7 separate regions of the Homo sapiens genome follow, and all the other regions are linked to region 5. The links come from fine-mapping of genetic effects on gene expression. A gene starts in region 5. Each other region holds a variant in brackets. All regions are shown on one strand. Distances are between the middles of the regions.

Region 1 (4,066 bases), 990 kb before region 5:
GCTGGTCTTGAATTCTGGGCTCAAGTGATCCTCCTGCCTTGGCCTCCCAAAGTGCTGGAATTACAAGTGTGAGCCACCACGCCTGACCAGAACTGCCACTTTTGAGTACCTACTGTGTGCCAGGTGCCTAGGGATGTTGTAACAAATTCCACAAGTGGCTTAAAATAACACAAATTAATTAATTAATTAATTTATTTATTTATTTATTTATTTATTTATGACAGAGTCTTGCTCTGTTGCCCAGGCTTGAGTGCAGTGGCGCAATCTTGGCTCACTGTAACCTCTGCCTCTCGGGTTCAAGTGATTCTCGTGCCTCTGCCTTCCAAGTAGCTGAGACCACAGGCACATACCACACCACCAAGCCTAGCTAATTTTTGTATTTTTTGTGGAGAGTGGGTTTCACCATGTTGCCCAGCCTAGACAGATTTATTCTTTACAGTTCTGGAGGTCAGAACTCCAAAATCAGTTTCACTGGGCTAAAGCCAAGGTGTGGGCTGGGCTAGCTCTCCTGGTGCCTCCAGGAGAGAATCTCTTCCTTGCCTTTTCCAATTTCTGGAGGTTGCCTGTGTTTCTCAGCTTGTGACCCCTTGGTGACCTCCAGAAGCTAGAACAGGCAAGAAAACAATTGCTTCCATTGTCCCAGCTTCTACTTCCTCCCTTGACCTTCCTGCCTCTGCTCATGAGGACCCTTGTGATTCCATTCCGGTCCACCTGGATAATCCAGGCTAATCCCTCCATCTCAAGAAGACTCTTAATTTATTTAATCACATCTGCAAGGACCCTCTGAATGCTGTCTTGCCTCAACTCATTTTACAGATAAGAAAATCAAGGCTCAGAGAGGTGAAGTCACTGATCCAAAGTCACACAGCAGGTGAGTTTAGTCACCCATTTCATGCATGGAGAGCCCACTGTGGGTCAGACACTGGGTTAGACCCTGGGTTGCAATGTGAAAGTTACCCATGAAGAGTGCTGTGGTGCCCAGGCATGCAGAGTAATGACCTAGTCCTGTCAAGGAATTCAGGGAAGGCTTCCTGGAGGAGGTGATTAGTGAGTTGAGCTTTCAAGAGTGATTTTCCTCTGCCTGCTTTAACCAGGGAGGCTTCTGAACAAACGAGGGCCCTTCCAGAGGAGGACAGCCATAGGCCTAACCATCCTGAGACTGCTCTGAATGATGCTGGTTGAGAGGGCTCAGTCTTCTCAGAAGAGAACTAGGAACTGATCAGGGATCACTGTCAGCAGAGCTAGCCCCAAGACACTTCTGCTGCTGACCCTGCTTGTCATCCTTAGTTGCACACAGGTAGAAGGGTGAGCAGGGGTGTGCACGCTATGCAATGCAGAGGCTCAATAAAGTCAGTGTTGGGGCAGAGTCTCAAACTTGCAGCTCAAAGGCCGAACTCAGGCTGCTAGGTTTGTTTTGATTGGAAAGCAGAGCAAAAAGTGAAAATTTTGAAGTTGACATACGTTGCCAGGTGCAGTGGCTCATGCCTGTAATTCCAGCACTTTGGGAGGCCAAGGCGGGAGGATCACTTGAGCCCAGAGTTCAAGGCTAGCCTGGGCAACATAGTGAGACTCATCGCTACAAAAAAAAAAGTTTTGTTTTGTTTTGTTTTGTTTTTAATTAGCCAGGTATAGTGGTGCATATCTGTAGTCCCAGCTACTTGGAAGGCTGAGGTGGGAGAATCGCTTGAGCCAGGGAGGTCGAGGCTGCAGTGAGCCATGACAGTGCTACTGCACTCCAGCCTGGGGGACAGAGTGAGACCCCATCTCAAAAAAAAAAAATAAGAGAGAGAAAAGCAAGAAAAGAAAGGAAAGAAAGAGAAAGAGAAAGAGAAAGAAAATAAATATCTTTAAGGAATCTAAGTTCTTCGGGGCCCCACCACTACCTATTGTTCTATACCCGCATTTAAATCACCTGGCTGACCAACCCCTCAGCACACCCCGACACACACACACACACATACACACACACACACACACACACACACACACAGCCTTGGGTTTCAGACACCTTCCCCCCAGGGTTCTTAACACTCACATCTGTGTGGCCTTGAACTTCCTGTCTGTTTTCTCATAGGTCAAAAGGAGATCATGTTTCCTGCCTGGAGGAGAGGCCCCGGTGGACTGGAATAGGAGAAAGTGGAGGGGGTGTATTTCAGGATAGAATCCTGCACCCTGCCAGGGACCACGCTTATCCTTGGCTCACTCAATAGGATGCAAGGGCGTTTACTGTGGCCAGGTGATTCCCGCAGCCGCTGTCTCACTAGGTCTCACCTGCATTTCAATAGCCTCCTTGTTCAGATGAGGAAACACACTTAGGGAATGAAGTCACTTGCCCAAGATCACACAGTCATACTTAGAGTAGGGATTCTCCTGGCCTGAGCTCCTGCCCACGCTGCCGCCCC[G/A]CCTCCTCTGCGATGAAAACTGGATGGAGGCTCCGGGCTGTTCTTACAGAGCCCAGGCAGAGTGTGAGTGTGCAGGAGGACTCCCATTAGCAAGCATGTAGCTAGTACTTATTTGGCACCTACTATGTGCATTTCAGTCTTATTATCTCCATTTTGCAGAGAACATAGAGGCCTAGAGAGGGGAGGAAACTCTCCCAGAATACCTTCTTCTGTGTAGGTAGCTGTCACCCAGGCTCTCTGCTTAGACAGTAACAGAGGAATGAGATGGAAAATCAGAACTCCTGCCCCAGCTCTGCCACCGTGCCACCAACAGCACGGCCTTGGGTACCTCCTCACCCTCTTTGAGACTCTGGTTTCTAACGAGGAGTGTAGCAATCCGTGCCTCCTGGGCTTATGACGATTTAAAACAGTTCAACATTGTAGAACTCTGGACCACCAACTGTTGCTGCTCCCCCTCACCCCATCAGCCTCCAGCACTTCTACAGAGAAGACAAATGTGAATGTGAACCTTTCTTTTGTAGGTCTTGTGAGTGCCCAGAGCCCTGTGGCAAGAAGCCTCTGCCAGGGAAAGGGATGCGGGGAAGTGGAGGCAGTGATGGGGAAGCAGAGCCAGGAGAGACCCTTGGGCTTCCTTCCTTCAAGGCCTCTGGTCTCTAGCAGAGAGAAGAGAGGGAGCAGGTGAGAGCCCCACTTAGCTCTAGGCAATATTTTTTTTTCAGACAGGATCCCACTCTGTCACCCAGGCTGGAGTGCAGTGGCACAATCATGACTCACTGCAGCCTCAACCTCCCAAGCTCAAGCAACGCTCCCATCTCAGCCTCCCAAGCTCAAGCACCGCTCCCATCTCAGCCTCCCAAGTTGCTTGGACTACAGGTGCACGCTATCACGCCCAGCTAATTTTTGTATTTTTTGTAGAGATGGGTTTTTGCCATGTTGTTCAGGCTGCTCTTGAACTCCTGAGTTAAGTGATCTGCCTTGCCTACCTTGGCCTCCCAAAGTGCTGGGATTACAGGCATGAGCCACTGCGTGCAGCCGAGCCAAACCTCATTCTAGATTCCATCTCCAGGAATAATGATGTGGGACCCACCACACAGCCCCCATAGTCTGGCAAGTGAGACAGACATTGAACCCACTCTAAAGAAGGGTCTCATTATCCCAAGAAAAAGACCACTTTGACCACAAGTCAAAGCTCTGGGAACCAACATTTCTTAGTAATTGGGAAAAAAATGTTTAATTGGAATTTTGTTTTGAAAAATGAAATTTAAACTATGAAAATATACACATTTTATCTTCCACAAACAACATTTAGGTTAATATGCTAATTCTTAGATTAATGTGCTAATACTTAGTGTTATGGTTTGACTGTCCCCTCCAAAACTTATGATGAAATTTATTTATTTATTTTATTTTTTTTTTTTTTAGATGGAGTTTTGTTCTTGTCACCCAGGCTGGAGTGCAATGGCATGATCTCGGCTAAGTGCAACTCCTGCCTCCTGGGTTCAAGCAATTCTCCTGCCTTAGCCTTTTGAGTAGCTGGGATTACAAGTGGCCACCCCTATACCCAGCTAATTTTTATATTTTTAGTAGAGACAAGGTTTCACCATTTTGGCCACGATGGTCTTGAACTCCTGACCTCAAGTGATCTGCCTTCTTTGGCCTCCCAA
Region 2 (4,066 bases), 890 kb before region 5:
TGTCCACGTGCCCCCCGTATGCGGGTGGCGTGGCCGGGATGTGGGCACACACTTTTTCAGTTTACCCCGCCCCACTCACACCCTCGTGTGCACTCAAGATTGTCCCCTGTCGAGTGTGGGCGAGGAGAGGCACACCACTATTGTTTTAATTTGCTTTTACCTGATTCCTGGTAGGTTGAGCATCTCTTCACATTTATCTCAGCTGCTTGGGTTTCCTCTGGGGCCTCTGAGAACCCTCATCCAGGAGGGTCTCGGTCACACCAGGGTTGGTGTCACCTCCCTTCAGGGTGCCAGGCACCCCTCTTCAGAGGTGCTGATTTCCTCATCTGGCATCCAGGCACATTTCTGCGGCCGCCCTCCCAGGACATGACACAGCTCATTAGGTTTCAGCTTTTTATCTTCCCTTTTATGAGACTACACTGTAGTAACCTTTGCCGGACTTGGATGTTCCCAGGCCTCCCAGTGTGTTCCCAGAGGGTAACTTTTTCTCCGACTCCTGGGGGCTCACAGGCCCTGCTGTGTCTGGGTGGTGCTGATGCTAGCTCTGTCCCTGCAGGCAGACTTCTGCGTTATGACCCGGCTGCTGGGCTACGTGGACCCCCTGGATCCCAGCTTTGTGGCTGCCGTCATCACCATCACCTTCAATCCGCTCTACTGGAATGTGGTAAGTGATGTGCCTGACACTGTCCAGACGGGAGTATCTCACTGCTTGGTGAGCCCCACATGCAGGGGATCGCGGTGGTTGCTGCTGGCTGGCCAGACAGACAGACAGCTCTGCTCTTCCCTCCCGTGTCTGTCGCTGGCTGGTGTGGAGTACTAGGCGCTTCCTGCCGTCTTGCCTTGGGGATCCAGCAGCCATTGGGCTGCCCAGGCTGGCGTCAGGATGGTCCAGGACTGTAGGGGTGGCCCTCCTACCCTCACAAGAACCTGCAGGAGAACGCTGCCATGGTGGGGCTGCCATTGGTCACATGTGCCTGGCAGTCTGGTGGCCTTCTCATGCATGAAGTGGGTTGCCCAGGAAGTAGGGGCTCTCTTCCCTCTCTGCCATGTCACACAGTAAAGCCACTTGCTTGTGAATCTCCCACCCCTCGTGTGTTCCACAAACATGGTTATTTTTCCCACATGAGGCTTCCTGCAAAACGGCCTGCGCATTCCGGACCTAGGCGAGCTGGGTGGCAGGAGCAAGCCGGCATGAGTTGAAAGGAAGCCACCAGCGTGGCACCAGCTCGTGATGGGTGCCAGGGGATGTTTGGGTGCCCGGGCACCAGCACCGAGGGGTGGGTGGACTGCATGGGAAGTGGGCTCTGGGCCCTTCGAGGAAAGTGTGGGAGGGGAGGGCCGTCAGTTCCTTCTGCAGCCTTTCTGAGATGCCTCCCACACCTCCCAGACTGTGGGGTGAAGCTCTTGGGGTTCCTGGCCCGCTCTCCCAAGGCTGTCTCTGGGGGGTGCTTCTGGGCTGCTTCCCGGGGATCCTGCTGGGGGAGTGGGTGGTCCTGGGGCTCAGCGGGGGTTGGGCTTGCTGATGCAGAGCCCTGAGCGTCCTGTGATCACCCCCGAGGCTAATCTGCAGAGTAAGGCCAAGATCAGCGTCAGCAGCACATTGTTCCAGACAGTTTTCATTTAAGGTGAACCCTTGATCCCAGGGCAGAACAGGACATGTTTTTCATTTAGTTTATGACTTGAGATTTTTCTCCATCTGGTGAGAGAAGTGGGTGGGGGCCAGCCTGCTCATGTCAAAGACAGTGCATTCCAAAGAATGCCCTGTTCCTGCTGTCCTGAACATGCTGGACACACTCCGAGGATGGATGCTCTGGCGGCCCACAAGGGAGGGGCTTCGAGGGGAGGTCCAGAGGTGGGAGTGAGACTGGCGAGCTTGGTGTAGCCAAACACAGGCCTCCCGGACACCCCTTTCTCCTGAGAAGCCTTGGCTGGGCTGGGGAGCACCTGTACTCTCAGCCACACCGTCCCCAGCTGGCCCCAGCCTCCTGACATGGGCCTCTGGAGCCAGGGCTGCAGCCGAAGTGCCTGGCCATCCTGGCGTTTCCTCCCACTGCCTGGCCTGCATGCTTCCTCTCTCCTTTCACCTTTGCACACACCCAGCATGCCAGAGATATGAGGTGGTGAAGGGTGAGGAGGGTGTTTGGAGGCTGAAAAATGGTCCTGCAAAGACGTCCACATCCTGTGAAGGTCTCTTATATGGCACACACACAAGGATCTTTGCAGACGTGATGAAGTCAAGGAGCTTGAGCTGGGGAGATGGCCCTGAGTTACCCAGGTGGGCCCTAAGTGCCATTGTGTGTGTCCTTTTAACAATGGAGTGGCACAGGGACATTGAAACACAGGAGTGTCTCTTGTCACCATGGAGGCAGAGGCTGGAGTGACCAAGCCACTAGCCAAGGAAGGCCAGGCCCACCAGAAGCTGGAAGAAGCAAAAAATGGAGTCTCCCCCAGAGCCTCTGGTGGA[A/T]GCACAGCCCAGTCGGCACCTTGATTTTGGCCCAGTGGTAACTGATTGGGGATTGCTGTTGTTTTCAGCCCCTAAGTTGGCAGTCATTTGTTACAGCAGCCACAGGAAGCGAGGCCAGGGTATTTAAAAAGCCAAAGACCCCTGCTGGAAGACGTTGTGGGCCTAACCTTTGGAGTGTTGGGTGTGCCACGCTCTTGGCTGTCCACAGTCCTTCTCTGAGGGAGATGTTGGGCTCTTACAGCCGGAGGAGGTCCCTGCCCTCTGGCTTCCTGCAGGCCTGACGTTGACCAGCAGTCATTGAGGTACATATGGGTCTCCCAGCACTGGGAGCTTGGCTGGCTGAATGCATAGCAGGTCCTGAGGACGCTTTTATTTATGCACAAGCCCCCTCAGGTCACTTCCCACTAGCCTAGCCAACAGTGTGTTTTTAAAGTGAAGTTCATTGTGAAGGTTCTCAGTGGCTCATGAATGGCAGAGTGGTTAAGATGCAGTAAGATTTGGCCGGGCGCGGTGGCCCACGCCTGTAATCCCAGCACTTTGGGAGGCTGAGGTGGGTGGATCACCTGAGGTCAGGAGTTCGAGACCAGCCTGGCCAACATAGTGAAACCTCATCTCTACTAAAAATACAAAAATTTAGCCGGATGTGATGGTGTACGCCTGTAGTCCCAGCTACTCGGGAGGCTGGGGCAGGAGAATCTCTTGAACCCAGGAGGCGGAGGTTGCAGTGAGCCGAGATGGCACCACTGTACTCCAGCCTGGGTAACAGAGTGAGACTCTGTCTTTAAAAAAAAAAAAAAAAAAAAAGATGCAGTAAGATTTGGAAGACAGCATGTGTCTGTGTGTTTGGCATACGGTTTTTTTTTTTTTTTTTTTTTGGTCATAAGCTTTTGATTAGTCTCATTTTGAGATAGTTTTTCACTGGAACAGTTTGTGGTCATTGGTGGGAGAGGGAGTGAGCTCTTCAAAGTGGTTTCAAAAGGAGAAAAGTTAAGAAACATGTTGCAGTTCCGTGGGCTGCTGCCGGGGAGAGTATCCGGACGGCATCTGGAATGGGATGACGAGGCCCAGCTCTGTGATGCCAGAAGCCCAGTGGGTGGATCAGTTGAGCCAAGGAGTTGGAGACCATCCTGGGGAACATGGCAAAACCCTGCCACTACAAAAAATACAAAAATTAGCCGTGTGTGGTGGTGTGCACCTGTAGTCCCAGCTACTGGGTTGGCTGAGGTAGGAGAATCACTTGAACCCAGGAGGTCGAGGCTGCAGTGAGCTGTGATCACACTACTGCACTCCAGCCTGGGCAACAGAGCAAGACCCTGTCTTAAAAAACAAAAACAAAGACAGGCCAACAGGCCACAACCAGGGAAGCACTTAAATAACTTAATAGTTATCAATGCAGTTGTCCCTGGGTATCCATAGGAGATTGGTTCCAGTTCCCCGTGGATACCAAAATCGGCAGATGCTCAGGTCCCTGATGGGAAACAATGTTGTATTCGAGTATAACGTATGCCCACCCTCCCATATACTTTACATCATCTCTAGATTACTTATCATACCCAAGACAGTGTACATGCTGGGTAGTTACACTGTATTATTTTTTATGTT
Region 3 (4,066 bases), 820 kb before region 5:
GCCTGGGCCAAGTGCTGGGGGGATACGCAGGGAAGGAGGAGCAACTTCTGTTCCCCAAGAGCTCCCAGTCAAGCTGGAGGAAGGAGTTCCAGGGAGGCATAAAGACATGTCTGTATGTCCTTAGCTCAGCATAAGGAGTTTCACAACAATCTGAATTCACCAATGAATGGAACGAGTGGATGAAGATGGGGGCTTCAATCTGCTTGAAAGAGCCTAGCAAACAAAGATACTTCATGGTGGATGGATGGATGGTTGTGTGGGCAGATAGAGGATACATTGATGGATGGAAGGATGGATAGCTGGACAGATGGATGGATGTGTGGGTGCATAGAGGATAGATGGATGGAGGAAGGATGGGTGGTGGGGTGGATGGTAAGCTGGCCCTGCTGGGAGATGCCGTCTACAGACTGGGTGTGAAAGGCGCTGCCCTGCGTGAGGTAGCAGATCTCCATGTCTCTTCTGTGTTGTGATTATTGTGAGCATGGGAAGAGCACATTTGGTCACACATGTCCGTGCTCCCACACACAGCCTTTCCTGTGAGTGTGCCTCTCATCTAGCACCCAGGGCCCCCTTCCCACCAGCGCCCGCTCCCCTGTGATGAGGCCTGGGTACATCAGCACATGCCTAGCCCCTGTGCCCTCCCTGCACCAGCCCCTCAGTTCTCCGGAGCCAACTGGAGAACCTGAGCCTCTAGACCCACTGCTGTCATAGTCACCCCCTTTTGGTCACGCCACTGCCTTTTCTTTTTTTCTTTTTTCTTTTGATACTAAGTCTCGCTCTATTGCCCAGGCTGGAGTGCAGTGGTGTGCAAACTCCGCCTCCTGGGTTCAAGCGATTCTTGTGCCCCAGCCTCTCAAGTAGCTGGGATTCCAGGTGCCCACCACCACACCCAGCTAATTTTTGTATTTTGGGTAGAGACAGGGTTTCACCATGTTGGCCAGGCTGGTCTTGAACTCCTGACCTCAGGTGACCCGCCCACCTCGGCCTCCCAAAGTGCTGGGATTGCAGGCGTGAGCCACCACACCTGGACCCCACTACCTTTTTACAAGGCCTTCAGTGGTTTGGCCCCAAAGGGAGCCTAGTGGGGGAATTCAGGTGTGGAGGAGGACATTAAGGGCCCCCAAAGTGCCTTTAAATGCAAGTCAAGCCACCCAGGATGTGGCCAGACCCACAGGGGCTGTGGAAGCGCAATCCCTAGCACAGAGCATGCCCCAGGCCTCGGGGCACTGAGTCTGTTGGGGAATGGGACACCTGGGCCTGCCCTGCAACCTGGCACCTGCGTCTTTCCTGAGCCTCACTTTCCTCCATAGTATGAGTTGCTCATTGGACAGGATGAGAGTTTGCAAGCTGGTGGCCTTCGGGCTGAATCCAGCCTGCTCACATGCAGGGTCTAAAGTGGCTTTCATGAATTGTCTATTTCTAAAAATTAGGATATTTCACATACGAGTCAGGATTTCTGGCTTCTCTTGAAAAAATTTAAAAATCTGACAGGCCTGGGCCCCTCCCTGTTACTGTCACCCACCTCCCAGGTGGACTGGACCCCACCTGCTGCCTGCCTGGCCTGGCAGCCCTGGGCTGGCTACTCTCTAAGGGTCCCTGGGGAGAGGGCGAGAAGATGAGGTCGGCCTCCTCCCGGGCTGTGACATCCTCCCTGGCCATGACGTCCTCCCTCTCCATCCCCTGCCCACAGCTTCACGCAGGCCATGCTGAGCCAGCCCAGGATGGAGAGCCTGGACACCCCCGCGGCCTACAGCCTGGGCCTCGC[G/A]CTCCTGGGACTGGGCGTCGTGCTCGTGCTCTCCAGCTTCTTTGCACTGGGGTTCGCTGGAACTTTCCTAGGTAAGACCCTGAGGGCTGGGGTGACCCTGAGCAGGACCGCTGGAGCCCCAGGGAGGTGCAGGGCCAGGTGGCTGCTGCCCTGCTATCCGTGACATCGGTGGGAGTGCTAGGGGCCCCCTCCATCGGGGCGTCTTTGCTCCTCCAGGCCTGGCTTGTCTGTGGTTAGAACAGGAGGCTGGGCTCCAACAGCTCCTCTTACCCCAGCGTGCTGAGCGGCTGCCTCCTGGGGAGTGAAGGCAGCTCCTGCTGCTTCTCTCCAGCTAATGAAGATGCACTCAATGCCCGTTCTGCGGCCCGGGCTGGGTGCAGGACTCCTTGAGTCCAGCTCCAGCACCAGCTCCCCCTTGCAGAAGACTCTCAGGCCTTGTTGCACAGAAGCCTGAGGTGGTGGTGAGTCAGCCACCTCTCTGGCAGCTCCCGGCACGCGTGGCTCTCAGGCCAGGCAGGATTGTGGTTTGTGCCGTGTTTGGCCGCAGGCAGGGCTGGTGTAGGTCTGGGGAGGGGTGAGGGGTGGAGGCACCTTATCCCTTCTCCATTTCCCTCTGCCTGTGGCTGAGGTGCTTTCAGGCTGTGAGCCCAGTGCTGGCCTGGCTAGACGCCCACCAATGACCCTGATGATGGCAGCAACTTCCAGCTCCTTGGAATCTGGGAAAGAAAAGCAGCCATGGGAAAGGCAGTAGGGGTCGGGGTGGGAGGGGAGATGGGGGCAGGGGTGGGGGACAAGAGGGGGCCTTCGGAACCTGGAAGGAGAGAAGGAGGCAGTCCCTGTCCAAGGGGAGCCCCTCCCAGTGAGCAGGGAGTTGGTCCAGCTGGCCGCATTGCCCGCTCTCCGTCATGGGTGGGAAGGCCCACGTCTTCCTCCCCATCAGCCCTGGCCAGTGCAGGAGCTTGGAAGTCACTCGGCTTCAGTGGCCTCAGTAGCCTCCTGGGACCAACGGTGTCCTGAGGAGCTCCCGGGCCTGCCTGCCATCCCCATCCTCAGATGCCGGCTACAGCTCCTTGGGCCCAGCCCCCAGGGCACCGTGGGCTGTCACAGGGCACTCCAAGTTCTCAAGGAGCTTGTGCCTGCCAGTAGGGGTCCCCCCGAGGGAGGAAGTGGCATCTGTGGGTGCAGCATTCTGGATCGCCCATGGCCAGGCCTCTCTGGGACTGTGGGGGGCACCCACAGGCAGTTCAGTGCTTCCTGCTCAGGCAGACGCTGTAGGGAGTTTGGTCCAGGAAGGGGGACAGCAGCCAGGAGCGTCTGGATCTGCCAGGTGGGGGCAGGTGCGGGCAGGTAGGAAAGAGAAAAAAGCCTTGGTGCAAGGAGAGGGAGGTTGAGGGCAGAGTAGCTGGCAGCTGGAGGTGGGGGGCAGCTGGACTGGCCGCACAGGTGCTGTCGGTTGGGACAGGGCAGGAGGATGAGCCGAGGCCTTGAAGGCCATCCAAGGGGCTGAGGCTCCATCCCCAGAGAGGTGGGAGCCATAGGGGGGGTCCCAGCAAGGAAGAGGTTGGACCGATGGAGCCAGGATCAGAGGTGGGGCTCAGGAGGAGCTGTGGAGGGGCCCTTCCAGGATGTGAGGGCGGTGAGGGCCCCATGGGAAGGGGGACTCCGGGCTGTGCAATCAGGTCCTGTGGGAGACCAGCGGCGGGGGCCCTCCAGTGGCCAGTGCTCGGGTGGATCTGGACAGGGAGGGCTGCAGAGGCAGCGTAAGGAGAGCCAGGATGGTGGGTGGAGCCCCTCAGCAGTGGAAGAACAAGCTGGGGGTCCTGGACAGTCAGAGGGAGGGAAGGAGCCTGCAAACACCAGTGGCCACAGCCTCCTGGCGGCCCTGCCAGCAGACATGGCCTAGAAACACCGAGGACCAGCAGCGCGGTATGTAGGCAAAGGTGGTCACTTCCTGCTGTGACTCAGCTCGAATTGGGTTTCTGTGCCATCTACGCACACCCTGTGCCCCACTTCCTGCTTCCTGGGAAGAAAGAACTTTCCAGTGGTCCTGGGCCCTGCCCCGTGTCCCCAGATGGTGATGAAGCTCCTGGACCCCTCCTGCCCATGCTGCCCATTGTCGGGCAGCTGCCCTACTTTCCGCCTTGGATGAAGCTCCATTGTCCTCTGGGAGGAGAGACAAATGAGGGGTTTCTGGGGACAGAAGGCTGGGAGGAACGAAGCCACACCCTTTATGGAGCGGTTACTCTGTGTCCAGTGGGACTGTCCTCTGTGGGCCTGGGACAGACACTGTGACTGTGACCC
Region 4 (4,066 bases), 86 kb before region 5:
TTGTGTAGAGAAAGTCCTGTTTTTAAAACCATCAGATCTTGTGACATTCACTCACTGTCATGAGAACAGCATGGAAAAGACCCGCCCTCATGATTCAATCATCTCCTACTGGGTCCTTCTCACAACATGTGGGAATTATGGGAGCTAAAAGATGAGATTTGGGTGGGGACACAGAGCCAAACCATATCATGGTGATTTTGGTTTCATCAAATGATTTAGGGAAGATTTCTCTTTCTCTATCCTGTGAAATAGTGTTAATAGGATGAGTACCAATTCTTTGAATGTCTGATAGAATTCAGGTGTGAATTCATCTGGTCCTGGACTTTTTTGTTGTTGGCAATTTTTAAATTACCATTTTCAATCTTGCTGCTTCTGATTGGTCTGTTCAGAGTCTCTATATCTTCCTAATTTAATCCAGGAGGGTTGTATATTTCCAGGAATTTATCGATCTCCTGTAGGTTTTCTAGTTTATGGATGTGAAGATGTTCATAGTAGTCTTGAATAATCTTTTGTATTTCTGTGGTATCAGTGGTAATATCTCCCATTTCATTTCTAATAGAGCTTATTTGGATCTTCTCTCTTCTTTTCTTGATTAATCTTGCTAATGCTTATCAATTTTATTTATCTTTTCAAAGAACCAGCTTTTTCATTTATCTGTTGTATTTTTTTGTTTCAATTTCATTTAGTTTTGTTCTGATTTTGTTATTTCTTTTCTTCTGCTGGGTTTGGATTTGGACTGTTCTAGTTTCTCCAATTCTGTGAGGTGTGACCTTAGATTGTTTATTTGTGCTCTTTCAGACTTTTTGATATAGGCATTTAATGCTATGAATTTTCTTCTTAGCTCCACTTTTGCTGTATCCCAGAGTTTTTGATAGGTTGTGTCACTATTATCGTTCAGTTCAAAGAATTTTTAAATTTCCCTCTTGATATCATTGTTGACCCAACAATCATTCAGGAGTAGGTTATTTAATTACCATGTATTTGCATGCTTTTGAGTGTTCCTTTTGGAATTAATTTCCAATTTTATTCCACTGTGGTCTGAGAGAGTACTTGATATAATTCTGATTTTCTTAAATTTACTGAGACTTGTTTTGTGCCCTATCATATGGTCTATTTTGGAGAATGTCCCGTGTTCTGATGTATACAATGTATATTCTATGCTTGTTGGGTAGAATGTTCTGTAAGCATCTGTTAAGTCCATATGTTCCAGGGTATAGTTTAAGTCCATTGTTTCTTTGTTGACTTTCTGTCTTGGTGATCTGCCTAGTGCTGCCAGCGGAGTATTAACATCCCCCACTATTATTGTGTTGCCAACTACCTCATTTCTTATGTCTAGTAGTAATTGTTTTATAAATTTGGGATCTCCAGTATTAGGTGCATATATATTTAGGACTGTGATATTTTCCTGTTGAACTAGTCCTTTTATCATTATATAATGTCCCTCTTTGTCTTTTTAAAACTGCTGTTGTCTTAAAGTCCGTTTTGTCTGATATAAGAACAGCTACTCCTGCTCGCTTTTGATGTGTCCATTTAGACGAAGTGTCTTTTTCCAACCCTTTGCCTTAAGTTTATGTGAGTCCGTATGTGTTAGGTGAGTCTCCTGAAGACAGCAGCAACTTGGTTGGTGAATTCTTACCCATTCTGCCATTCTATAT[C/A]TTTTAAGTGGAGCATTTAGGCCATTTACGTTCAACATTAGCATTGAGATGTGAGGTACTATTCTATTGTAACGCTATTTGTTGCCTGAGTACCTGAAAACCTGGAAGCGTTCCCTTGAAAACTGACACAAGACAAAGATGCCCTCTCTCACCACTCCTATTCAACACAGTATTAGAAATTCTCACCAAGGCAATCAGGCAAGAGAAAGAAAGAAAAGCTATTCAAATAGGAAGACAGGAAGTCAAACTATCTTTGTTTGCAGATGATATGATCCTATATCTAGAAAACTCCATCATCTCAGCTCAAAAACTTCTTAGCTGATAAGCAACTTCAACAAAGTCTCAGGATACAAAATCAATGTGCAAAAGTCACTAGCATTCCTATACACCAACAACAGGCAAGCCGAGAGAAAACTCATGAATTAACTCCCATTCACAATTGCCACAAGAAGAGTATAATACCTAGGAATACAGCTAACAAGAAAAGTGAAGGACCTTTTCAAGGATAACTATAAACCATTATTCAAAGAAATCAGAGATGACACAAACAAATGGAAAAACATATGCTCACAGACAGGAAGGTTCAATATCGTGAAAATGACCACACTGCCCAAGGCAATCTGTAAATTAAATGCTAGGCCCATTAAACTACTATTCACATTCTTTACAGACCTAGAAAAAGCTATTTTAAAATTCATATGGAACCAAAAAAGAGCCCAAATAGCCAAGACAATCCTAAGCAAGAAGAGCAAAGCTAGAGGCATCATGCTACCCAGCTTCAAACATACTACAAGACTACAGTAACCAAAACAGCATAGTGCTGGTACAAGAACCGACACATAGACCAATGGAACAGAATAGAGAACCCAGAAATAAGACCACACACCTACAACCATGTGATCTTTGACAAACCTGACAAAAGGAAGCAATGGGGAAAAGATTCCCTATTTAATAAATGGTGCTGGGAGAACTGGCTAGCCATATGCAGCAAATTGAAACGGGACCCCTTCCTTAACCCATATACAAAAGTTAACTCAAGATGGATTAAAGACTTAAATCTACAACCCAAAACTATAAAAATCCTGGAAGAAAACCTAGGCAATGCCATTCAGGACACAGGCAAGGGCAAAGATTTCATGACGAAGATGCCAAAAGCAATTGCAACAAAAGCCAAAATTGACAAATGGGATCTAATTAAACTAAAGAGCTTCTGCACAGCATTAAGAACCTATCAACAGAGTAAACCGACAACCTACAGAATGGGAGAAAATTTTTGCACTCTATCCATCTGACAAAGGTCTAATATCCAGCATCTACAAGGAACTTAAACAAATTTACAAGAAAAAAAAACTCAACCCCATTAGAAAGTGGTCAAAGGACACAAACAGACACTTTTCAAAAGAAGGCATACATGCAGCCAACAAACAAAAAAACTTCAACATCACTGATCATCTGAGAAATGCAAATCAAAACCACAATGAGACACCATCTCACAACAGTCAGAATGGCTATAATTCAAAAAAATGAAAAGATGCTGGCAAGATTATGGAGAAACAGGAATGCTTTTACACTGTTGATAGGAGTGTAAATTAGTTCAACCAGTGTGGAAGACAGTGTGGTGATTCCTCAAAGATCTAGAACCTGAAATACCATTTAACCCAGCAATCCCATTACTTGGTATATACCCAAAGGAATATAACTAATTCTAGTATAAAGATACACGCACACGTATGTTCATTGCAGCACTATTCACAATAGCAAAGACAAAGAATCAACCTAAAAGCCCATCAATGATAAACTGGATAAAGAAAATGTGGTACATATACACCATGGAATACTATGCAGCCATGAAAAGGAATGAGACATGTCCTTTGCAGGGACATGGGTGGAGCTGCAGAACATTATCCTCAGCAAACCAACGCAGAAATAGAAAATGAAATACTGCATGCTCTCACTTACAAGTGGGAGCTGAATAATGAGAACACATGGACACATGGCGGGGAACAACACACACAGGGGCATGTGGGATGGTGGCGGGTGAAAGAAGGGAGAGCATCGTGAAGAACAGCTAATGGATGCTGGGCTATTATTAATACCTAGGTGATGGGATGATCTGTGCAGCAAACCACCATGGCACATATTTACCTATGTAACAAACCTGGACATCCTGCACATCCTGCACATGTACCCCTGAACTTAAAAGATGAAAATAAAAAATAATAATAATTGCAGGTCACCTGATAGAATGCAGTGAGAAGATCATGGGATAACTTCTGTGATACTCTTGCCAAAAAAAAAATTATCATCTAAATCTTATCATAAAAAAAGTTCAGAGAAATCCAATGGAGGGACATTCTGTATTATTGGACTTTACTCTTCAAAAGATTTAAGGTCATAAAGGTCAAAGAAAA
Region 5 (4,066 bases):
ACATGGAAAACAAAATGCTACTTTTCTTTTTCAGTTCCATGAAAGACATGCAAGTTGACATTCTCTCATTTCTGAGATACATACTGACAATATATTTGCACACAACATCCCACGTGTTACTCAGCTCCATTGATCACCTTACTGCATATTTTTGTAGTGAAAAATCACAATTTTAATATTAGGTGATACCCAGTTTGCTTTGACTCACACTGTCTTTGGAACTAGTCAGCAAATAGTCAAATGAACTTCTAGTGACTGCGCAAAATATGGACCACTTCAAAAATCTGTGCATCATCCTTATGCAGGCAGGGGCCATGCTAATTTCTCTCCATTTTGTTCCAATTTCAGTATATGTTTGCTGCTGAAGCAAGTTTTGTTTGTTTGTTTGTTTGTTTGTTTGTTTTAGACTGAGTCTCGCTCTGTCACCCAGGCTGGAGTGCAGTGGCGCGATCTCGGCTCACTGCAAGCTCCGCCTCCTGGGTTCATGCCATTCTCCAGCCTTAGCCTCCTGAGTAGCTGGGACTACAGGCGCCCACCACCACGCCCGGCTATTTTTTTTTTGTATTTTTTAGTAGTGACGGGGTTTCACCGTGTTAGCCAGGATGCTCTCAATCACCTGACCTCGTGATCCGCCCACCTTAGCCTCCCAAATTGCTGGGATTACAGGCATGAGCCACTGCACCCTGCCAAAGCTCTCATTTTATACATGGATATTCATGAGTCATGGATGAGACTTAGCTCTGTTAAATCCAACTAACATACTTGAGACTCAGAATTCTGGTGATGGCTTCCTGCCACAAATCTGGGAAAGGATAATATGGGACATTCCACGATCTAAGAAAAGGGTCCTCAGCATACAGATCTGGTAGCAATGAAAAAAGGAAACTCCTCTCTTTCTGCAACATTATTTGAACTGAACCCCGAGGGCCTAAAGGATAATTTATCATGAAGGTCTTAGCTAAGTCTAGGCTGAGACAAAAGCATAACAGGCGGGGTTTCACCATGTTGGTCAGCCTGGTCTCGAACTTCTGACCTCGTGATCTGCCCTCCTCGGCCTCCCAAAGTGCTGGGATTACAGGCATGAGCCACCGAGCTCGGCCAACATGAAGTTCTTAAGGATGGAAGGAACCTGAGCGACAGTAGAATATGTCTGCTGTATAATAGGTATTCAGCTTATGTTTGATGAATAAATTGAGAAAATGGATAAACACAGTTGGGAAGTGCAATATTTTTAAAGAAAACTCCTGTAAAGTAGACCAACACTTTTGCAATAGTAATAATCCTTTATATTTGATCCCGTCTCACTAAGAGGCCTGGGCCCCTGACCCCTCTGACGTTTCCCCATCCCGGGTGCCGTGGGGCCTGCGGGCACCAGAAAGCCAGTGTCCCCGACAGGACGGCGCATCCTTCGCCTGGCCATTACCTCTTCTTCCTATCCCTCTTGTCCACGCCAGTGTCTCCAGGAGCTAAGATGTGCTCCACCCCAGGGACGTCGCCCGACCGGGCAGCTCTGTGGAGCTCGCCAAGATCTTCCAGGCGGACGTCGTGCTGGGGCTGGTCTAAGGCGCCCTCACCGTGCTTGCTCTCGCTGCCGACGCTGTTTTTCCACCAGCTGTAGGGGAAGCCCGAGGACCACTGGTCCCCCGGGTAGCCCAAGTACCACTGGTCCCCCTGGCTCCCGACGCTAGGGGTCTTCCTCGTGGCGTAGACTGCCGGCTTCGGAGACCCCTCAGCCCCTCCCCGCTTTTCTCCACCCCAGGAGGCCATCAGTAGCGAGCTACTGCCTCGGCCACAACCTCCCAGCAGGATAGCCCGCGGTTTCCAATCTGCGAAAGGAGGACCGCCAAGCCAGAAATGCCAAGCCAAGCGATCACTGCCACGCCAAGCCAAGCGACCACCGCCAAGCCAACAGCCACCGCAAAGCCTCGTGGGTAAGGCCAAGCCAATCCGTTACAGACCAGTGCGCCTGCCCACCTGTGACATCACGGAACCTGTGACTTCACTGCATCTGCAGCTCCAGCCTCCCAGAAAAAGACTCCTTGGCCTGCAGGTGGCGCTGCAGCTCCAGCCTCCCAGAAAAAGACTCCTTGGCCTGCAGGTGGCGCTGCAGCTCCAGCCTCCCAGAAAAAGACTCCTTGGCCTGCAGGTGGCGCTGCAGCTCCAGCGCCAACCTGGGCTGGCTGGTCCTCCCTCGGAGGTTTCGGGGTGGCGGTGCCCAGCCTGCCTGTCATGAGTGCCGCTTCACAGCGCCGCCGGCGCACCTGCTCCTAGGCTTGCTCGGTTCAGGGGTACGGGTCAGTTCCGCCCCCGGCTTGGCCACTGCAGCAAAGTTGCCCTAGGGTCCGCGCTGCCAGGACGCAAGCGGAGTCAGATGGCTGGGTCAGAGCGGCCTGTCAGCCCGGCTGGAAGGGCCTGCCCGACGCCGCTGCCCGCCCAGCTCCTACTCGGCCTGCGCCTGGAGCCAGGGACCAGCTCTGGGCATTCTGCTGCCTTAGGATGGGGCCAAGCAGCCGCTCCCCGCCGTGTGCCGCAGCCGCTGCGCGCATCTGCCCAGGGTCCGTGCAGCTGGCGACCCGGGCGGGTCGGGGAACGCCTGGTGCCACCAGGATTGCTCGCCTCTAGTCCGTCCTGACCCTTCAGCCCGCGAGCACCAGTGAGATTGAAGAAAAGTGACGGCCAGGCGCGGTGGCTCACACCTGTAATCCCAGCACTTTGGGAGGTTGAGGCGGGCAGATCACTTGAGGTCAGGAGTTTGAGGCCAGCCTGGCCAACATGGTGAAACCCTCTCTACTAAAAATACAAAAATTAGTTGGGCGTGGTGGCGCGTGCCTGTAGTCCCAGCTACTCCAGAGGCTGAGACAGGAGAATCTCTTGAACCCGGGAGGTGAACGTTGCAGTGAGCTGATATCGTGCCACCAAACTCCAGCCTGGGCGACAGAGCAAGACTCCGTCTCAAAAAAAGAAAGAAAAGAAGGAAGGAGAGAACGAAGCAAAGAGAAGGAAAGAAGGAAGGAAGAAAGGAAGAAAGAAAGGAAGGAAGGGTGACAAAGGAGAATCTAGAGAGCACTCAAATACTAATTCTTGAGGACAATTAAGACAGATAGCATTATGAAAAACAGATTTTGTCACTGAAGCCTCAGGGCTTCAGCCTAGATCCTGCGCTGCTCACCCACAGAAAGCCAATCACTGAGATGAGTATTGCAAAGGAAGAAGGCTTTAATCAGATGCTGCAGCCGAGGAGATGGGAGCTCAGTCTCAAATCCCTCTCTCTGACCAACTAAAATTAGGGATTTTTAGTATAGCAAAGAAGAAATGTAACTATGTATAAGAAAACATGAACTAGAAAGGCGTAAGGAAGCAATCATTTACAAAATATCTGTGGCCGGGCGCAGTGGCTCCCACCTGTAATCCCAACACTTTGGGAGGCAGAGGCAGGTAGATCATGAGGTCAAGAGATCAAGACCATCCTGGCTAACATGGTGACCCCTTGTTCTCTACTAAAAATACAAAAATTAGTTGGGCGTGCTGGCACGTGCCTGTAGTCCCAGCTACTCGGGAGGCTGAGACAAAAGAATCGCTTGAACCCAGGAGGTGGAGGTTGCAGTGAGTCAAGATCATGCCACTGTACTCCAGCCTGGCGACAGGGCTAGACTCCATCTCAAAAAAAAAAAAAAAAAAAAAAACAGAAAAAGAAAAAAAGTATCACCCTGCCTCCTCAATCTTGGCATAATTCCCCCTATGAGTGGTTTCTGGGGTCTCAGTTGGCATTTAGTCACACGTATGACATTGCACATATCGTGTGCACATCTGCACAGCTCAGCAGTGTCCTGGGTAGGCCTTGAAGGGTGATCTTCACGTAAGCCTGTGGCCTGAGCAAGAAAGCTGCACACGGGCAGCGGAGGAACCAGCAGGAGCCCAGTCCTCTGTGGAAAATTCCAGCACCACCCGCAAGAGCAGCTGCAGTGGAGACTGTGACCTGACAAGGATATATGCATGAAGATGCTGGTCTGAAAACAGACTCAGTTTAAGGGTGGCACTTTGAAAAAATATTGATACATGTCAGTGA
Region 6 (4,066 bases), 81 kb before region 5:
GTATCACAGCTTCTGGTTTTCTCATTCTTCATTCATTTATTCAACAACCACATGCTAAGGTACTAGACTATGCCCTGGAGTTACAAGATGAAGATGATACAGTCCACCCCTCAGCAATCATATGCTATAACCTGAAAAAGCAGACAAATAGGCAATTTCCATACCAAGTCATAGATACCCTGACAGGTATAAAACAGGGCACTATTGGAATGCAAGAGGGACACCTATCCCAGTTTTGTCTCGATACTGTAGGCTTTTCGGTGGAGGCATGGTTAGTGGATACCTGAAGGATGAGAAAAAAAGGTTGGCAGATAGAGCAAAGAAGCAAGTGCAAAGAGCTGGAGGAGAAGGACGAGCACTGTGGAATTCTGTGCAGTCCAGTTTGGCTGGATCCTAGAGCAAAGGGGCAGAGTAAAGTAAGTGGTGAGAGATAAGCCTGAGTAACTTGACAAGAACCAAATGAATGTGGGTGTTTATATTACATGTTAAGGAATTTGGAACTTTTTCTGAGGGCAAAAGTAAACCAATGACACTGTAAATGACTGGAGATTTAAAGTGTTACCTCTCAAGCGACTGCTTATAAACTGTAACTGCTTGAATAGGTTACTAGATGAGACTGGGATGTTTTGGCCTTAAAAATCACTACCATAACCCTGAGAAGTTGATGATGCTTCTGTTTTCTGAGAACCGTTTCTGTGTGCTGGCTGACAATTCCATAGGGATGGCAGAAGTGAAGAGTAGAGCCAGACTTCTTGAGCTATTTTTTTCAAGCTATGGAACGTGATGAATTCATGAGGCATAAGTATGCTCTTCATTATACATGTTCAAGTTTTCACATCTTTCATTAGATGTATATGAAAGAATATTTAATGTAGTATCTACTAGCCCAAGAACGGAAAGGGATGTCGTTTGCAGTTTATTTCAGATATATATTACTTAATCTAAATTTAATTCATAAATTTTGGTAACATACCTGCTACTTCTGCAGTTAGATCATTTTGCAACTTCTGCTGCATCTGAAATAAGTCAAATATTATTTATAACGTTTAAGAAGATACATTATCATGGTAAGGAGCATTAATTACAAAATGCGGCCTTTAAATAATACTTTTACAGACTAGACCTAACTTGAAGATTGCTTAAATTAAAAATATCATATAAATTCCTACCTATTTTAAGTTTAGATAATGGAGAACATATATGTGTTATGCTGTTTAGATTAATCTCACAAAAGTACAATTAATATTGGTCTGTTGGAGCTATGTCATTTCAAAAGTGTGATGTTTTCCCTTATTAGTACAGAGGTTACACAATTCAAGTCATATTCTGCAATGAATGCATTACTTTCCCATTCTTATCAAAACTCTGCCCTTTATCAAGGTCTAACCAGTTTTTCACTTTAATGAATAGTTCCTTACAATGAACTCCCCATTCTCCACTTTTAGAAAATAATAATTTCAAAGTATGTTCTTTGCTATTAATTCAGCACAGAATCTTTAATACATACTTGAAGAAAGCAGTATTGTTGTGATGCCATGTGAAAGTTCCACTGGCAAAAGATTAAAAATATTATGCTATTATGATTAACATTTCTTCATTCATA[C/T]GGACACAAAGATTTCAGAAAATTTACATAAAAACAAGGATAAATACAGGTTAGAGCCAGTTTTCAATCTTAGTTTCTTTGATTCATGAGTGTCTAGAATTAAAAACTAGGAAAACAATTTAGAGTTATTTAACTGCAACTTTGATTTCTTTTCAGAAATTAGTACCCATTTTTTAAGCATCTGACAAGTTATAGTTATCTACTTAATTATGAAAGGTGTCAGAATATTTCAAACTTATTGCCAGTGTCCCTATCTAGAGTGCTCTTATTTAATTTTTTTTTAGAATAGGTATTCTCTCACTAAATGCCTAGAACGGGGTCTGAGATAGTTTGTGGTGATAAAGATAATGATATCTAATGCCTTTAGAAATTTTAGGTGTCAAGTCAATTTTTTTTTTTACTAACAGGTTTACCAATATTTTGAGACTCCTTTCCATAACATTTCTGTGACAAAAACATTATAGATAGGCTTTATAGAGTAGGTAACATGACAACAGCATTACCATCCAGGCCTTATAAAAGTAATAATTCAAGAAATGATCCTTTTCAAGCTATGTCCCACAGAAATCTAAGGTTCCACAGAGGATGCTGAAGGATTAAGGGATAAGAAAGTCACAGCTTCAGAGCACTGATCCTTCCTTTAGTCAGGCAGCACTACTTCTGTTTTCTATAATGTGGTTTTATGCAATTTAAAAAAGTTCCATTCTTAAAAAAAAAAGAGATTTACTTAAACGTATGAATGTCACTGATTTAGTCAAAGTCCTTAATTTTACATAAGAAACAAAACAGGCTCGGAGAGACTGCAGCTTGCCTGAGGTCACAAAACCAATTAGTTACAAGGTAGGAGTGGGCTTCAGATCTTTCACTGAGCCTGGAGTTATTCTATGCCAGCACCTTCCTTCATATTCAGAAAAGAAATACAGATTTTTAAAAATAACTCAGGCTGGGCACGGTGGCTCACACCTGTAATCCCAGCACTTTGGGAGGCCGAGGCGGGAGGATCACAAGGTCAGAAGATCAAGACCATCCTGGCTAACACAATGAAACCCCGTCTCTACTAAAAATACACAAAATTAGCCGGGCATGGTGGTGGGCGCCTGTAGTCCCAGCTACTCAGGAGGCTGAGGCAGGAGAATGGTGTGAACCCAGGAGGCGGAGCTTGCAGTGAGCTGAGATCGTGCCACTGCACTCCAGCCTGGGTGACAGAGTCAGACTCCGCATCAAAAATAATAATAATAATAAAAATAAAAAAATAACTCAGACAGTCCAGGTGTGGTGGCTCACGCCTGTAATCTCAGCACTTTGGGAGGCTGAATTGGGTGGATCACAAGGTTAGGAGTTCAAGACCAGCCTGGACAATATGGTGAAACCCCGTCTCTACTAAAAATATAAAAATTAGCCAGGCGTGGTGGTGTGCACCTGTAGTCCCAGCTACTCAGGAGGCTGAGGCAGGAGAATCGCTTGAACCCGGCAGGCAGAGGTTGCAGTGAGCAGAGATCACGCCACTGCTCTCCAGCCTGGGAGACAGAGTGAGACTCTGCCTCAAAAACAACAACAACAACAAAAAAGAGAAAATGCATCTATAAACTGTCATGATGCTCTATAATGTTTAAGCATGAGACAAAAAATAGTAGCTCTCCAAATTGTAAGTTATGAATCAAATTTAAAGAACAATTAATATCATAACTTCTGGCTAGTACCAGTCAAGACACTCAATTTATAAAGAACCCATTTTTCAAACCGCAGAACAGAAAACTTGAAGGAGAAAATCTTTAGTTGAACCAAGCAAGCAGAAATTAAGAAAACTGTTCCTTAAAAGAACTATTCATTCTCCTCCAAATAAGACGTGGTTTAGGAAAATCAATCAAGTCAATTATCCATGTTGTGAGTTATTTATAGAAAAACTGAAAACACAAAACAGATTTCTCTTTACCATCTACCATACGCCTGTCCAACTTCTCATCATTAATTTGTACATACAAAGACATGGGATTAATTTCAATTATCACTTAAATCCAGCCATAAATGATAGGAGAACCTTCATTTTCCTGGCCTCAGGTTTCAAATGAGGACTTAGACTCTCTCTACCTACAGCTTCCTCTTGAGAGGATATCAGATCTACCTAATGGGTGAATTTGGGCAAAGCACACAGTGTGCTTGCTTGGCTCAGGGTCTCTTTCAAAAGATGTGTCTGCCCACAGTGACATGAGTTCAGGTCTGCTGTCATCTCTGCAGTAAGCAGCATGCACCTGCGATGGGTGTCAAGCATTTGTTTTCTCCACTTAAAACTCTGTGGATTAGTGCCTAATCTGGGATAAAATACTGTGGCTGCACATCTGAGCCACATCCTCCCATTAGTTATCATGAGTCTGCAATAGAGCTAGTGTGTTGATGTCCATCTATCTGACTCCTGTGTTCTGAACTCAGAAGGGAAGGAGGAGCACCATTTGCTGCCTATCCACC
Region 7 (4,066 bases), 69 kb before region 5:
ATTCTTCTGTAGTGTTTCACATTGCTTTTGTATTGCTTTCATAGAGAATAATGTCTGTTGAAGTTGAAGAACTTCATTCTCTGCATCCAGATGTAGACATCGTGAAGGTACAGTTTCCTGTGCTTCTGTAAGGTCAATCTGCATGAGTAAAACAATATAGTTTTGTAATGAAGAAGGTAGACTGAGAATGGTCTAACAAAAAACTAATAATTTTTTTTTTTTTTTTTTTGAGATGGAGTCTCGCTCTGTCGCCCAGGCCGGAGTACAGTGACAGGATCTCGGCTCACTACAAGCTCTGCCTCCCGGGTTCAGGCCATTCTCCTGCGTAGCTGGAGTAGCTGGGACTACAGGTGCCCACCACCACCCCTGGCTAAATTTTTTTTAATTTATTTTTTATTTTTAGTAGATGGGGTTTCACCGTGTTAGCCAGGATGGTCTCGATCTCCTGACCTCATGATCCACTCGCCTCGGCCTCCCAAAGTGCTGAGATTACAGACGTGAGCCACCGCGCCCAGCCAAAACTAATAATTTTTGAAATAAATTCAGTTGCAATAAAATGTTACCTATACTGTTGTAGATTCATAAAATACAGACCCTTGGATTACTCAGAAAATTAAAAACAAAGTTAAAACCACCAGAATTCACAAAAATACATCCTTTACTTTCATCATCTTTGCCACACAACATTTGGACTTGATCTTAGACTTCTGTTTTCCTATGACTGTTTCATGGCTTTCCTCCTTAAAATGGCTCTAAGTTACCCCTTTAGCACAAAGTCTCTTATTCCTTTAACCCACTATCATTCTCCATAATTTGCAGAGAAGTTTTAGGGGCATCATATTGAATTATTTGGGCCTGAGTCAATAAATGGCTCCCATAATAAGACTCTGAAAATAAGACTCTAATTAATACATTTTGAAAAAAAAAAAAGGATTCCAATACCATAAGCCTTTTGCTGAACTGCAAATGTCTTACGCTAATTTGAGTTACATTTCAAAGAGTAATGATACTTGGAGTTAAGAAGCAATCACATCTCCCAGTATAAAAGTTCAGTGGCATGATCCATACCATTTTTCTGAAGAAAAATGCCTTAATTCAGTAGCACAATCTTGTAATTCATTGTTACTTTACACAAAATAAGGGAGCACATTAAAGAATGACAACAAAAAATTGCACTGAAATTTCAATGGTGCTGAGTTGGAAATAACTGCTTTCCTTTAGAGGAAATAATTATGATTGTTTTTTATTTTATAAAGGTAAGTGAAGTGGTGGTTTTAAAACATCTACAAATTGCTTGCCACTTCTCCCATGACATTCCCTCTCCTAAATACAAGCTGGCATTGACAACCGGTTTCTCCGGAACACAATGTGGCAGAACTGCTGTGTGACTTCTAAAGTTGGTTACAAAAAGTCACACAGCTTCTACCTGACTCTCTCTCTAGGGACGCTTGTCCTTAAAATGCAGCCAACATGCCGTGAGAAAGCCCAAACCATACCATGAACCCTCATGTAGGTAGGTGTTCGAGCTGACTTCCCTACCTAACGTCCCAGCCAAAAGCCAGCTTCGAATGCCGCACAGGTAAATAAACAAGCCTTTAGATGATTCTAGTCCCCAGCTTTAAGTCACCTCAGCTGATGCCAAGTAAAGAAAAAGGGAGTTGGCCCCACTGAGCCTTGCCTAAAACTGCAGATTGTGAACAAAATAGATGTTGTTTTGAGACACTGCATTTTGTTATATACCAAGAAATAACTGATACAGATATTGACACTACATATAGATTGCACAACAACAACACAACAAAAACTACTAAAACATGTAGGATTACCATTGGACCAGGAGCTAATCAGAAGCTGAAAGGACCTACAGAAGAATAAGCACAAAAACAAGAAGAGTTTTAAAGAGACTGTTAGTGGAAGCCTGATGGTCCTCGAAGAAGCTGGTAGGAAGGGCTCCAGGATAGTGAAGAAAAC[G/A]ATACGGGAACCTGAAGGAAAGGGCACTGTTACTACACAGCCGCTGAAAGTAAAACCAATGCAAGAGATAAGCTAAAGAAAGACTACTACATATAAAAGAACCAGGACTTTCTAGGTTCAGTATCCTTTTTATAGCCTCTCCACATGTCAGATTCCCAAATATAGACAGTCCTTGACTTAGCATGGTTCGACTCACCATTTTCTGACTTTTTATAATACTGTGAAAATGATATGTGTTGAGTAATGACATGATATGTGTAAGCCTTTTGGCTTACAGGGGTGGTTACATCAGGATAAAGTCACTGTAAATGGAAATTATCGTAAATGGAAAACCCACCCATAACTTCTGATATTTACAATTTATGATGGCCTATAAATTACAAATATCAGACATAACAAATGCAAATGCCATCCAGACATAAACCCATCCTAATCTGAGGAGCATCTGTATTGCTGAGATAAATGGCCTCTGAGATAAGATCAAATCCAGGGTGCTGCCAGGAGAAAGTCTGAAGGTGAAGCCAAGACTGTCAGTGTAAGGCTCTATTTTAAGACCTTAGAAAGATTTAAGGTGGTGCCTCAAATTCCCTTAAAGATCTTAAGGGTATACGCATCTTAAGGCACTGTCGTACTACACAGAACAGTGTGCTTCCTTCACAGGAAGCACAAGGTGAAGTGCTTATCTCAAAGAGATTGGGACAAGTGGTTTTTCCAATGACAAGAACTCAAGTAAAATTCACAAGAGACTCTAAGAGAATTATAGTAACAATAGCACTGCTTGCTAGCTTGGCTTAAAAGACAACAAGACAGTAAAAATGAAAAGAGGCCTTAGGACCTAAGAGCTTCTACAGGGAGGAAGCTGGCTGAAGAAACTACTTAGCTGAAAACACAGGTCATTGCTTATGAAAAGGATACAACAAAGAGCCAAGAAGGTACCACAAAAAGCCACAGAGGATGGTTCCCATGAAGTCCAAATCAAGTAAGTGGAAGCACACATCAGGCTGTATTTCAGAATTTCTATGGTCTAATATTCCCTTTGTGACTCCCATTTTCTCTCTGTTCAATAGGAGGGTCTCTGGCAGTTTAGGAGAATGCTGGGTGGGTGAGTGGTAGACAAGTTGTCCCTTTAGTTCTTACGTCTTTGTGTTGACAAGAAATGCACTCAAGGGGTTATACCGCAGAAACCACAACCCAGGGTGCATCCCTACCGTCTGTGATAAAGATGGTAGGATCTTGCACTTCAAGCCTGAGCTTGCTGCCATATTAAATGAAACTTGTGTGTGTGTGATGGGAGGTTAGGATCTTGCACTTTAAGCCTGAGTCTTCTGCCATATTAAATAAAACCTGTGTGTGGGGTGAGAGGTAATAATTAGAAATTAGTGTGTTTTTCAAGTGGTAGAAATCTTTTAAATTATAGTTATAGGGTCAATTGTGCAGGTTTTAAAACACGTCTATACATTCCTTAATATGCACAGCATAGACAGAGACATCATCGAGATGGCTGACTGGGAATACCCAGCACTCACCTCTTTCAAAAAGAAAAACCAAAACAGCAAGTAGGTAACCACACCTTGAGGAAAACATCAAAGAGAGTATACTGGAATTCAGCAGGAAATTGATAGGGATCCTCTGATGACAGAAGGAAAGGGAACTGAGGTAGCCAGCCCAACCAGGATCATCTCAAAACCAGGACCGATTCCCCCAAATCCCTAGCCCCACAGCACCATATACCTGTGGAAATAGGTGGTCATCTAATAGCCCACCAGGGAAGCTACTCTAGGTCAAAGGGATCCTAAGTGTGTGCTGTCTAGAGCCTAGGAGCCACCTGACTGACACCACTGCCACCACCAGCAGCCCTATCCCCTTCAGGGGCAGTGCTGTGCATACCTGTACATACCTTTAGGAGGCCGGAGGACTGGCCCACTCAAGTGTACCATGCAGGAGCCTGAGAACAAGCCTGTCAAGCCCACCAGGGGTGGCGCCCATGTGAGCCATATGAGAGCCTGAAGACAAGGCCACTTTGCTTGCTGCTGCTATTGTTGCTATCAGTGCTCACATACACTGTCCAGGACCCTGAGGAGCAGCCCACCCCACC

What was found.
Region 1: its variant is fine-mapped to the expression of CCDC144A in whole blood (TOPMed, PIP above 0.99).
Region 2: its variant is fine-mapped to the expression of CCDC144A in whole blood (TOPMed, PIP above 0.99).
Region 3: its variant is fine-mapped to the expression of CCDC144A in whole blood (TOPMed, PIP above 0.99).
Region 4: its variant is fine-mapped to the expression of CCDC144A in skeletal muscle (GTEx, PIP above 0.99). The same link has a PIP of 0.9 or more in atrial appendage, breast, esophagus mucosa, esophagus muscle, fibroblasts and lung.
Region 6: its variant is fine-mapped to the expression of CCDC144A in subcutaneous fat (GTEx, PIP above 0.99). The same link has a PIP of 0.9 or more in atrial appendage, breast, cerebellar hemisphere, esophagus mucosa, esophagus muscle and fibroblasts.
Region 7: its variant is fine-mapped to the expression of CCDC144A in visceral fat (GTEx, PIP above 0.99). The same link has a PIP of 0.9 or more in atrial appendage, esophagus mucosa, esophagus muscle, fibroblasts, lung and sigmoid colon.

The regions. Positions count from the first base shown.
Region 1 is chr17:17,674,380-17,678,445 of GRCh38, reverse strand. SMCR2 (Smith-Magenis syndrome chromosome region, candidate 2) reads left to right here and starts at 758. Exons shown (of 4, transcript NR_131243.2): 1 at 758-871; 2 at 2,075-2,236; 3 at 2,924-3,080. RefSeq lists an enhancer at 2,414-3,042. The variant G/A (reference allele first, on the strand shown) is at 2,403.
Region 2 is chr17:17,573,518-17,577,583 of GRCh38, reverse strand. It overlaps PEMT (phosphatidylethanolamine N-methyltransferase), which reads left to right. Exons shown (of 7, transcript NM_148172.3): 2 at 557-664. Among named protein-coding and RNA genes, the nearest start is that of PEMT, 16 kb to the left of the region's middle. RefSeq lists an enhancer at 238-983. The variant A/T (reference allele first, on the strand shown) is at 2,465.
Region 3 is chr17:17,510,279-17,514,344 of GRCh38, reverse strand. It overlaps PEMT (phosphatidylethanolamine N-methyltransferase), which reads left to right. Exons shown (of 7, transcript NM_148172.3): 4 at 1,691-1,836. Among named protein-coding and RNA genes, the nearest start is that of RASD1, 16 kb to the right of the region's middle. RefSeq lists enhancers at 1-746, 747-1,616. The variant G/A (reference allele first, on the strand shown) is at 1,766.
Region 4 is chr17:16,774,492-16,778,557 of GRCh38, reverse strand. CCDC144A (coiled-coil domain containing 144A) reads right to left here. Exons shown (of 17, transcript NM_001382000.1): 17 at 677-4,066. Among named protein-coding and RNA genes, the nearest start is that of FAM106C, 12 kb to the left of the region's middle. The variant C/A (reference allele first, on the strand shown) is at 1,656.
Region 5 is chr17:16,688,102-16,692,167 of GRCh38, reverse strand. It overlaps CCDC144A (coiled-coil domain containing 144A), which reads right to left and starts at 1,927. Exons shown (of 17, transcript NM_001382000.1): 1 at 1,424-1,927. The coding sequence starts at 1,767. It also overlaps the pseudogene RNU6-405P. RefSeq lists an enhancer at 2,034-2,937.
Region 6 is chr17:16,768,927-16,772,992 of GRCh38, reverse strand. CCDC144A (coiled-coil domain containing 144A) reads right to left here. Exons shown (of 17, transcript NM_001382000.1): 16 at 974-1,016. Among named protein-coding and RNA genes, the nearest start is that of FAM106C, 18 kb to the left of the region's middle. The variant C/T (reference allele first, on the strand shown) is at 1,604.
Region 7 is chr17:16,757,497-16,761,562 of GRCh38, reverse strand. CCDC144A (coiled-coil domain containing 144A) reads right to left here. Exons shown (of 17, transcript NM_001382000.1): 13 at 1-138. Among named protein-coding and RNA genes, the nearest start is that of FAM106C, 29 kb to the left of the region's middle. The variant G/A (reference allele first, on the strand shown) is at 1,972.